Regions from separate parts of the Homo sapiens genome. Here region 1 is linked to region 2. The links come from fine-mapping of genetic effects on gene expression. A gene starts in region 2. The other region holds a variant in brackets. All regions are shown on one strand. Distances are from middle to middle. Region 1 overlaps CNTN4 (contactin 4). Region 2 holds the start of IL5RA (interleukin 5 receptor subunit alpha).

The links. PIP is the estimated chance that this variant, and not a neighbour inherited with it, causes the effect. A credible set is the group of variants that fine-mapping cannot tell apart.
Region 1: its variant is the best candidate, but not a certain one, in a credible set for the expression of IL5RA in whole blood (INTERVAL, PIP 0.65).

Annotation. Positions count from the first base shown.
Region 1 is chr3:2,918,170-2,923,557 of GRCh38, reverse strand. The region is part of intron 12 of CNTN4 (contactin 4); the gene reads right to left. Among named protein-coding and RNA genes, the nearest start is that of CNTN4-AS1, 140 kb to the left of the region's middle. RefSeq lists an enhancer at 1,550-1,599. The variant C/T (reference allele first, on the strand shown) is at 2,733.
Region 2 is chr3:3,107,322-3,112,709 of GRCh38, reverse strand. It overlaps IL5RA (interleukin 5 receptor subunit alpha), which reads left to right and starts at 2,336. Exons shown (of 12, transcript NM_175726.4): 1 at 2,336-2,765; 2 at 4,019-4,160. RefSeq lists an enhancer at 2,891-2,970 and a silencer at 3,051-3,170.

The DNA.
Region 1 (5,388 bases), 190 kb after region 2:
ATGAATGGGAATCATGTGCAGTAGGTATTTTCCCTTGGCTAGCTGTGTTAATCTGTGTTCGTAGGCTTTGTGTTTGGTTGCTGCTACTTAGTAAAATACCTGAACAAATCCAGGGTCTATGTTATACTGACATCATTCCCCTACTTACCAATCCCATATAAGCTAAGTCACAGAAAAGTGTTTCAGCAGAGCAAACTCAATGCAAACCCCTGAACTGACAGAAAAATGTAAAAAAAAAAAGTCAGGTATTCTTGAAGTTTTTTTTTAAATGATATTTTGTGAAATAGAGTTACAAATCTGTATCATATAAAAATCCCTTCTTAAAACTGTATCTTTCTACACATATAATTTTATCACTTTAGGCGGACATTTTTCATCCATTCAGGAGAAATTCTGCAGTAGCATTTGAAATGAGTTTACATAAATCAAACTGTGCACAACACATGGGCATATTTGTCAAAAAACTACATTTTGCTTTTACAGGATTTGAAATAGCATATCAGACACACAGAAACCAGAAAACACACCTTTCAGTTTCAAAAGCATTTGTAATGTACTATTGGTGTGCATATAATCTTTTGGATATCTTATCGAGATAAGACTGGCTGGAACATCTTTCACTAATTAAAATGGAATTAAAAATTCAAGGCCGGGCATGATGGCTCATGTCTGTAATCCCAGCACTTTGGGAGGCTGAGGTGGGCAGATCACATGAGGCCAGGAGTTCGAGACCAGCCTGGCCAACATGGCAAAACCCCGTCTCTACTAAAAATACAAAATTAGCTGGGCGTGGTGTTGCACCTCTGTAATCCAACTACTGGGGAGGCTGAGGCATAAGAAGCGCTTTAACCTGGGAGGTGGAGATTGCAGTGAGCCAAGATCGTGCCACTGCACTCCAGCCTGGGGGACAGAGCTAGACTCCGTCTCAAAAAAAAAAAAAAAAAAAAAATCAAGTTCTTTTCTTTTGTTAACTCAATTTACTTAATTAGCTTCTGAAGTTATCTAACCCTGCAAATTTATCAGTTGTAACCATAAACTGTGGTACTTTTAAGGGAAAATTGTCAGAACTCCATCAGTTTTTGAATACTTGAGCTATTAATGGATTTCTTAACATTCTCCCATTTTGTGAGCATCTTTTGCACCAGAGATGCTGTTCAGCTTGTAGGATGATCCTTTTTCCTATTTGTACCCTTTATTCTCATCCTCAAACACTGACCTAGGGGAGGTTTGAAGGAAAAGTGAAAGGGACCTGTTCTATTTGACATTCACAGGTAATGAGGTTTTAAAAGTTATTGGTAAATCCCCAGAAGGGCACTATTAGAATCTAACCTTCGCTGGCACTTAAAAAATTAGTGCACATGGAAGTGAAACTTCAGTAGTTTCTAGTAGCTCAGAACTGTCAAATTGCCCCTTATGTCTGAGAGTAGCTGAGATACTGGGAGCTCCTTATTTGCTGTATTTAATATACTTAAATGATAATATTTCTCACATGCACTGCTAGAGGGCACCACTCCCTCAGTATTAGAATGAACTGTATTATGGGTCCTCCTCCATGTGAGAAATGCAACTTTTTATTATTTTTCAATGATCTTTATTAGATTATCTATGAGAAGCATCTGGCTGAGAGAAGCCCTCTATGTAATTCACAACTATTTGTTTTTAGTTAGTTAAATGAATTTTGGTCATATATCAAGGGTATTTTAAGTGGCCAATAGAACCCCTCAAAAACTTAAAAGTTTTTTGCTTTAGTGTCATTTCTCAAGAGAAACAGTAGAATGATAGCTCCTTAACTAGATATGCAGTGGCAGTCCTATTTGGGAAATATATGGATGTGATGTCTTACTACATTATTGAAGAAGAAAGGATTATTGTGTAATGCCAGTTCTATCACAGTCTGTGATAGAAGCATCACTGGGAACACTGCCAGTTGATGGAGAATATTAAGGCCAGCTTTTTTGGAAGTTCAGCATTTCTTATTACTTTAACCGTTGTCTACTTTCTTTAACTATTACCTCATCATTCCCTAAAAACAAGCTTAGAGTAAATGCATTAATTCAAATCTTTTCACTACTGAGGAGAAAATATTGGTATCAGATTATGAGACCCCAAATTTCTTTTGGCCTGTTGGATTGCTATCTAGAAAGAAGGCTACTGGTAGAAGATTTCTTCTTTCTAGGTCCACTGTTTTAGAATGGCTGATTCAAAAATCAGCCTTCTCTGAGGTCAGGTGTGTTGGCTCACGCCTGTAATCCCAGCACTTTGGGAGGCCAAGGCGGGAGGATCACTCGAAACCAGGAGTTCAAGACCAGCCTCGGTGACACAGTGAGACTCAGTCTCTATAAAAAATAAAACATTAGCCAGGTGTAGTGGTGAATGCCTGTAGCCCTTGCTTCTTGGAAAGCTGAGGTGAGAAGATCACTTGAACTCAGGAGTTCAAGGCTGCAGTGAGCTAGGCTCACACCACTACACTGCAGCTTTGGTGACGGTGAGACCCTGTCTTTTAAAAAACAAGTCAGTGCTCTCTTATTATGAATGATATTCACAAGGAGACTCTCAACACAACTCTGAAGTAGATGATTTTTCCATTTTGATGTTAGCATGATGTGCCCCTTCTAGTGTTCCTAATATCCATCCTTCTATTGTTTCGGTCTAATTCACTGAATGCCCTGTTTCCTGATGGCTCTAATAATGCTTCTTCCACGGGCAGCTCTTGGGTTTAAAAACTCCTATTC[C/T]TTTGGGCGTTATTATGAAACAAAAGAATTTTACAATCATGAGATTATTTTGAGGATTAAATAAAATAATACATGTATTGAACATAAAGTACTTAGCACAGTATTTGATCCAGATTAAGAACTTCATACGTCCCCTCTCCACTGCTATTTCCACTACTGCACTACCCCAGTCACCATTATCACGGACTTTTCTTCTGCTGAAAATTTTCTTAGAGTCCGAGAAACACATCATTGTTTGAAAACAGAAAATGTTTATTTTGAAATAATTATAGACCCACAGAAAGTACCAAATATAATACAGAAAGGTCCTGTGCATCCTTCACCCCGTCTCCCCCAATGGTTACATCTTATGTAGATACAGTTAAATACAAAAACAAAGAAACTGATACTTGGTATAATGTGTATGTATCACACATGTAGACTGGGCAAAAGCACCATGGAAACTGAGATAGGGAACTATTCTATTGTCACAAGGATCTTCCTCTTGCTTCCCCTTCACAGTCATATCCAGCCTCCTTCTACCTCCCCTCTGTAACTCCTGGAAACCACTGACCTCTTCCCATTACTATAGTTTAGTCATTCTGAGAATGTTTTAGATACATATGTGTGTGAGAGAGAGTCTGTGTGTGTGTGGTGTGTAATCATACAGTATGTGACCTTTTGGAGTTTTTGTTCCTTTTTCCTGCTGAGTATTACATGCTGGTATGGATAAGAAATACATCTTCAATATCGGCACTTCGGGCTCTATGAAAACTGACAAATACTTTGAGCACGGGAGCCATTTCAAGATCTCTCATCTTTCTCTGCCAACAAGTAGGATTAGGTATGGCCTTTTATTTTTTTTTATAAAAGACTTGAAAACTCAAAAATCAGTTACATAAACATAGGTGGAGGTTTTCTCTTATTCCCAGAAAAATATTTTAAAGACATTTTAGAACATTATTTCTTATATAATCAACATGTTGATTAAAATTAATTCTTATATAATGCTTTAAGTAGGGCTTCAGCTGCTAAATTCTTGTTAACCTCCTTTGACCCATCCTATCCATATAAAGATAATAAGACAGTCTGCATTTTAAACACTCTGTAATCACATCGACTTTCTTATATCAGTCCAAATTGGTGATATTTCATTTACATGTCAGTGTCTTAAACTCTTATACAAACTCAAGTCCTTGGTTATGCAGGTAGTGTACAGTATGCGAAGTCTGCTAAATGAACAGAAGAGAGTCATTAGACTATGATAGTGAGAACCCTAGAATTTCAGTAGCTAGGAAATAGTAGCTCTTGTTATTAGCTATTATTAGAACATCAGTTCCTTGAAGGCAAGAATATGTATCCTGGATCTGTATATCCCTTGGGCCTGGCACGGTGCTTGATACAAAGTTGATATTTAATCAATGAACCTATTGAAGAATTAAGTCAATTTTTAAAAAGCAACGATCTGGTTTTTTTTTTTTTTTTTTTTTTTTCTGAGACAGAGTCTTGCTCTGTCACCCAGGCTGGAGTGCAGTGGTGCAATCTTGGCTCACTGCAGCCTCCGCCTTCTGGGTTCAAGTGATTCTCCTGCCTCAGCCTCCTGAGTAGCTGGGACTACAGATGTGTGCCACCACACCTGGCAATTTTTTTTTTTTTTGTATTTTTAGTAGAGATGGGGTTTCACCATCTTGGCCAGGCTGGTCTTGAACTCCTGACTTCAAGTCATCTTACTGCCTTGGCCTCCCAAAGTGCTGGGATTATAGGCGTAAGCCACCATGACCAGCCAAAAAGCAACAATCTTTCTTTTGTCTGACTTCTGGCATAATTCAAGTAAGAGCCTCTTTCCCTTTTGTGTATTATAAAAAAGTTGATAATCAATATTTGATGAATGAATGTATGTTGCAGGAAAGAAATCAGGGATTCAGTTCAAAACAGGAAATTCCCGTCTCATGAGGCTTTGCCTGAACACTACATCTCTTTCTCCCCTTCATATAGGGTTATGAATGGCTTCGTGAACTTCCAGTCCTGTGTACAGGACATGACATCCTCTTTGGAGTTGTACCTCAGTCTAATGAAACAAATTATCCAAGAAATACCACATGGGCTGTTTATACTACTAAATCATCTGAACTGGTGTGATAGTAAATGTTTTACAAGTGGCTCTCTAAATAAAACAAAACAATAAAATAAAACACCAAAGAATTTGGTTTGTAGTCCTTGCCAATTTCTGTGGTGTAAATATTCCTACCTTGGCCAATTTCAAGCTATCAACATGAAGTCACTGAACGCTGGGTTGAGAAGAGATACATAGAATGAGCTCCTGCTGCTGAGCTAGCTCTAGCAGCTAACCGCCTTTCCCTACTTTTCCCACAACATGTACTTAGGAGAAGGTAACAGGGCAAGTGCACCCTGGAAGTTCAGCTTTCCCCAGATTTGGGTCTTGTTCGGCAGAAGCACATGGTCTCCTCTTTCCTCCCCAGTATGTCCAACAGCTGACCCAGGACTGAGAAGGTAAGAACTTCACCTTGAGTTTACTTGCTCAAATAATGTGTTCCCTGAGGCTTTGTGAGACAAGTTATCACAGCAGTTTCATGCACTTCAGTGATACAGGCTCTATTCTAGACATGCAGGCTCACCAGAACCATATTACAATGTAGAAGAGCTATGTTTATGCAAT
Region 2 (5,388 bases):
TAGTACTTTTACTATTTTACTATTGTAAAGGTACAATGAATTTTGCTCTCTTTTGTATAAATCTTGATCTACATTTTTCCATTATTTCCATGGAATCAAGTTCTAGAAGTTGATACCTTTAATAAGCTCCTTTAACCAAAGTTCATGGTAGAGCCACTGAACCATGATTTTCGTTTTATTACTATTCATATTTCTATTTGGCTAAACTCACATTGTTTTGCTTAAAGGATGCAGACACATTTAATTTCACTTTTTAAAAAAACGACTTTTGTGAATTCTTCCAGCATGTTCTATCATACTGTCTTTGGACGTTTACACTTTATTATAAAGAATTAAATTATTGCCATAAAAAACCAAACAGGCCTCGCTCAGTGGCTCACGTCTGTAATCCCAGCACTTTGGGAGGCCGAGGTGGGTGGATCACCTGTCAGGAGTTCAAGACCAGACTGACCAGCGTGGTGAAACCCCATCTCTACTAAAAATACAAAAAAATTAGCTGGGTGTGGTGGCGGGGGCCTGTAATCCCAGCTACTCAGGAGGCTGAGGCAGGAGAATCGGTTGAACCCGGGAGGTGGAGGTTGTGGTGAGCTGAGATCGCGCCATTGCACTCCAGCCTAGGCAACAAGACTGAAATTCCATCTCAAAACAAACAAACAACCCCCCCGCAACCCCCCGCCAGAAAAAAAAAAAGTCCCTGCCTCTCATTTTTTCGTTTGTGCTTATACAGAAACATAGAGACAGTGTTTCTGTATGAGCATGTGTTTGCTTTGTTTGTTTGTTTGTTTTTATTGGCGTAGTTAATTAAAGATCATATACCCAGGAAGGTGGTATGGAAGGAGCAGCCAGATCTAATTTTCTTTATACCCTTCACCGCGCCTAGCATAGTGCATAGGTGCATTCAATGAATATTTGAGTAAATGAATGTAAGAAATATACAGACCATTGGCTGAGTGTGGTGGCTCACACCTGTAATCCCAGAACTTTAAGAGGCCAAGGCGGGTGCATCACTTGAGGTCAGGAATTTGAGACAAGCCTGGCCAACATGGTGAAACCCCATCTCTACCAAAAATACAAAAAATTAGCCAGGCGTGGTGGCGGGTGCCTGTAATCCCAACTACTCGGGAGGCTGAGGCAAGAGAATCGCTTGAACCTGGGAGGCAGAGGTTGCAGTGAGCAGAGATTGCGCCACTGCACTCCAGCCTGGGCGACAGAGTGAGACTTCATCTCAAAAAATATACATATATATATACGGAGAGAGGCCATTAAAGCAGGCTTTTAAGCCAGAAATTACTGTCTTCCCAATGATTAATAAGTATTTTTAAGGTTTCATTAGTGACAAATATGTTACATGTATAAACAGATGGGCAGGACTTAAAAGAGTAGGCCAGATAGTTGATACTATATCTAAACTTTTCTGGGTGCCTCTTAGCAAATAAATGGATCTCTCTCTGTTCCTTGTTTTACTTCCCCTTTCCCCGAGGAAAATCACATTTTTCAGGTCTGACAACAATTTTCAACCTGATAACAATTGCTCCGGTTTCATTTTGGCAACTGCTAAAATGGTCACCTTGGGAACCCCAGGCACACACGCTGACTGTACTTGCACAGCTTCTACACTGAGCCTTTTGGAAATTGCCTCCAGGAAGCCTGTCTCTCATCTCACAAACAGAACCACTGATCCAACCTGGGCCACCATCTTTCTGCATCTGCTCTGTCTGAGACTCTCCCAGTCAGCTCCTAAGGAGACAGGGAATCCTGCATCACTCATCGCTTAGGCTAGACTGAAGGTCTCCTTCCAAAGGCAACTACTTACTACTCTCTGCCGTGGGTCATACAATAAGCACTACTCTTATCTATTCACACGCTAAGCTACTTTTTTAAAGCCAGCTTTGCTAGCTAGCCACCTCGAAATTCCCCAGAAGGAATCAAACAGAAATGGAACAAAGGACAGGAAAAGCCAAGGAGGTTTGCTGAAATTGAAGCATTCTGAAGACAGCTGGGTGGTAAAATGGATGTGACGTGAGGAAGGTGGTCTTGGGTGCACCCACAGACCAACACTGCCATTGTTACAATTTGTGTAGGATGATCTCAGGTGACAGACAGCAGCAATTTATCACACCCAGAAACGCATCCCCCACACATATTTACTTGAGGGTACCAGACCTGCTCACAAAGCAGAGAAGAGCTAAGGCGGTTCTCTAAGGGCAGAGAATTGCTGCTATTGCCTAGTGAGTGGGGAGAGGGTACTCCTCAGGCCTTACTTCCTATCAAATCATGTGTCAGTGTTGCCTAGGAGACAGAGGCACAGTAACTACTGTAGCCAAACAAGGCACATAAACAAAACAGAAATGCAACGCTTTAGAGTACCCACGGAAAACTTGTTTACCTTGTCACCATGAGTAAAAGTTAATTCCCACTCCTGAAGAGAGCAAACCAACTCTGAAAGAGAGTGAAAATGCAGACAAGACAGTTATCAGATAATGGCTATCTGGACGAGAGATTCTTTCGTTTGACAGCAGTTTGGTTGTTGGGAGTTCCAGTTCAGCTCCTGCACAGTTGCTCTGTACAAATCCTCCTCCATATTTGCTTAGAGAAAACGTGTTGCCATCCCATCATGAAGGAAGCTGCCTGAGAGTTTTTAACCATTACAGCCGTGATGATGAAAGAGTGAAGAACCGCCTCTAAGTTAAAAAGTGCACCCAGAGATAAGGTTCGTTCTCAATGCCCTGCCGCTGCTTCTCATCGCATGGCCACCGCATTTCTCAGTAAGTGGGAATCAAATGCTTCACTCACCACAGAGTAAGCAAATAAATATCTTTTTTCTATGACATGGGCTGTAACAATACCCTGTGCTCCACCTCCTAATAATTTCACTACACCCAGGGTGGGGAGGAGGGTTAGGAAAAGCAAGAAACAATGACTTCTAAATATATGACAAACTTGTAAACAACAAAAAGGGGAAACAAAACTCCTTATAATTCTATTATTATTAGCAGGGACAGAACTAATAATGGTCCCATTAAACTTGCATCATTAGGCAGGTCATGTTGATTCTGGGTATAACCTTCTATTCTTGTGTTTTGGCTCAGTAAGTGAGATGTGCAAATCCGTGGCAAGGTGAGTCATATGAAAACAACACCTATGGTTTTGTTAGTGCTTACATCAATATAAGACATCTGTTTTCCACCGCTCCAGATAATTATGCAATTAAAATGAGAACATATATTCTGCCAAGATTTCTTAGAAAATAAATGAGCTTCCAAAATAGGGTATAGGGTTTAATAAAATATCTCAGGAAGTTTCAGAGTTAAGCAAGAAATCTACAAATAAAGAAACAACAACAAAAAGTAGAGAGAGGCACTTTATCTAACTGAAGGAGGCGTTCTGCTTTTTCTTTCTGGTAGGGGTTCTTGGATTTCCAAGATTGTTTCATTGTATATAAAATGTACCCAAATTTGCTGAAATATGTCACTTGGTTTTGTGTTCACTAATGTATTTACCTAAAGCAAGGTAAGCATATTTCCATGTAGACAGAAAAAAGGATGAAATGGAACCAAAAAAAAGGGGGAAAAAGGAGAGACAGAGCGAGAATATTTTAATACCCTTGAGCCTAAAATTAATAAACACATGAAAAGTGATGGTGCTTTTATAGCCATGTGAATAATGTACTTAGTACTTGCTTTAATGAATTACCATACTGAACATTTTATTACCTGGCATGATTTCTATTTTAAGTGAATATGTCCTCTTTCATGGTTATCGAAAAAGGAATTTATGTAGCTATTTGTTAAAAGTTTGCATTTCAAAGCAAAATAAAGTTTTAGAAGTTAAATCACCTCATTTGTTTATATTATTTGAAACACCGCATGGGAAATTTTTAGGCAAAATACCAAAAGTGGGCCAGGCTTGTTACACACTCCCCAGCCTGCTGCTCTCCTGACCTAACTCATTCCTCTGTTAGGTTTCACCGCACATTGCACATTAGGGCTGTGCACTAATTTGCTTCTATTCCACACAGGGCCAGGCACATTGAGCATTGGTCCTGTGCCTGACGCTATGCTAGATGCTGGGGTTGCAGCCACGAGCATAGACACGACAGACACGGTCCTCGCCATCTTCTGTTGAGTACTGGTCGGAACAAGAGGATCGTCTGTAGACAGGTACGCCCAGGAGCATGGATGTGAGATGACAAATTGCACCATGTGCAATTGGCAGGAAATATTTTGCTACTGGGATATTTGTAGCAAACTCTTTCTTCTATTTTTCCAAATACTCAAGGTGGCAACACCATTTCCACTTGGACTGACAGAGAGTTTTATGTTTACAGCCACAACCTGAACTCATGAGTTCTATTTTAGGACTATTTCAGAAATTTAATCAAAAGTACAGTAGTAGTAAAAAAAAATTGCATGCATGATAAGTGGTCCTTATTATTCATTTATATATTTAGGAATGTGCAGTTTTTCATTGGGGGGTAATGCAATATACCTAGGTAAACATGTCTTTTGCAGTTTATACCTTGGTTTATTCTTCATCCCCCAAGAGATAACTTTTATTGCTGATTATACTGTACAGGATAAAAGAGAAAGTAAACTCTTCATATTTAAAAGCCTACCAGAGCATGAATCCTCTCAGTTGCTTTACAATTTCTGCCACTAAGGTTGAGTCTGGAATTAGGTGTTACCACAGTTGACTCAAAAAGGTTTTAAAAACAGGGGTGCCAGTATAACTTTGGTTATAAAACGAACGCCCCAGGCAGAAAAATAAGTTGGGAAAAAAAAGAGGGGAAAATATTTGTAAGTCTGAACTTCAGTAGAATTTGACCAGTTCTCAAGAACGCTGGGGAAATCCACTGCTAATTGTCAAAATTTTACCAAACTTCCTAGAAACACCTATAGGGAAGGAGACTGTGGTTGTTTTCTCCAAAATTTCAAAAAATGTAACACCTATCAGAAACTAGATTTTTAGAGAGCACTTGAGGAATTTTAGATTGACTCAATGAAATGTTATATGAGCAAGTAGATCATGAGATCATGATTTCTCTTAAAGATTGAGCATGTCTTCCTGGTGATAGATAAACAACCTATAGTTGCTTCATTCTGCTTAGTTTGCATCTTATTTTAACAATTTAATGGTTTTCTGCTAGATTTTAATTGGTAGCCATGAGAAGAATGAGTCGAACATATTGTCGATATATATGTTTAAGCTAATGAAGTCGCTCTATTCTTTTATAGTGAAATATGACCCAGTTGACATCTACATAACAGTGTATCTTTGGATTAAAGAAATGGCCTGAAGAGATTTGTTGTTGCTGTTGTTGTTGTTGTTTTAAGCAGGGACAAGAAGTATTAAGGGGCCACAGAGAGTGAGCAGAATTGTAGAAAACAT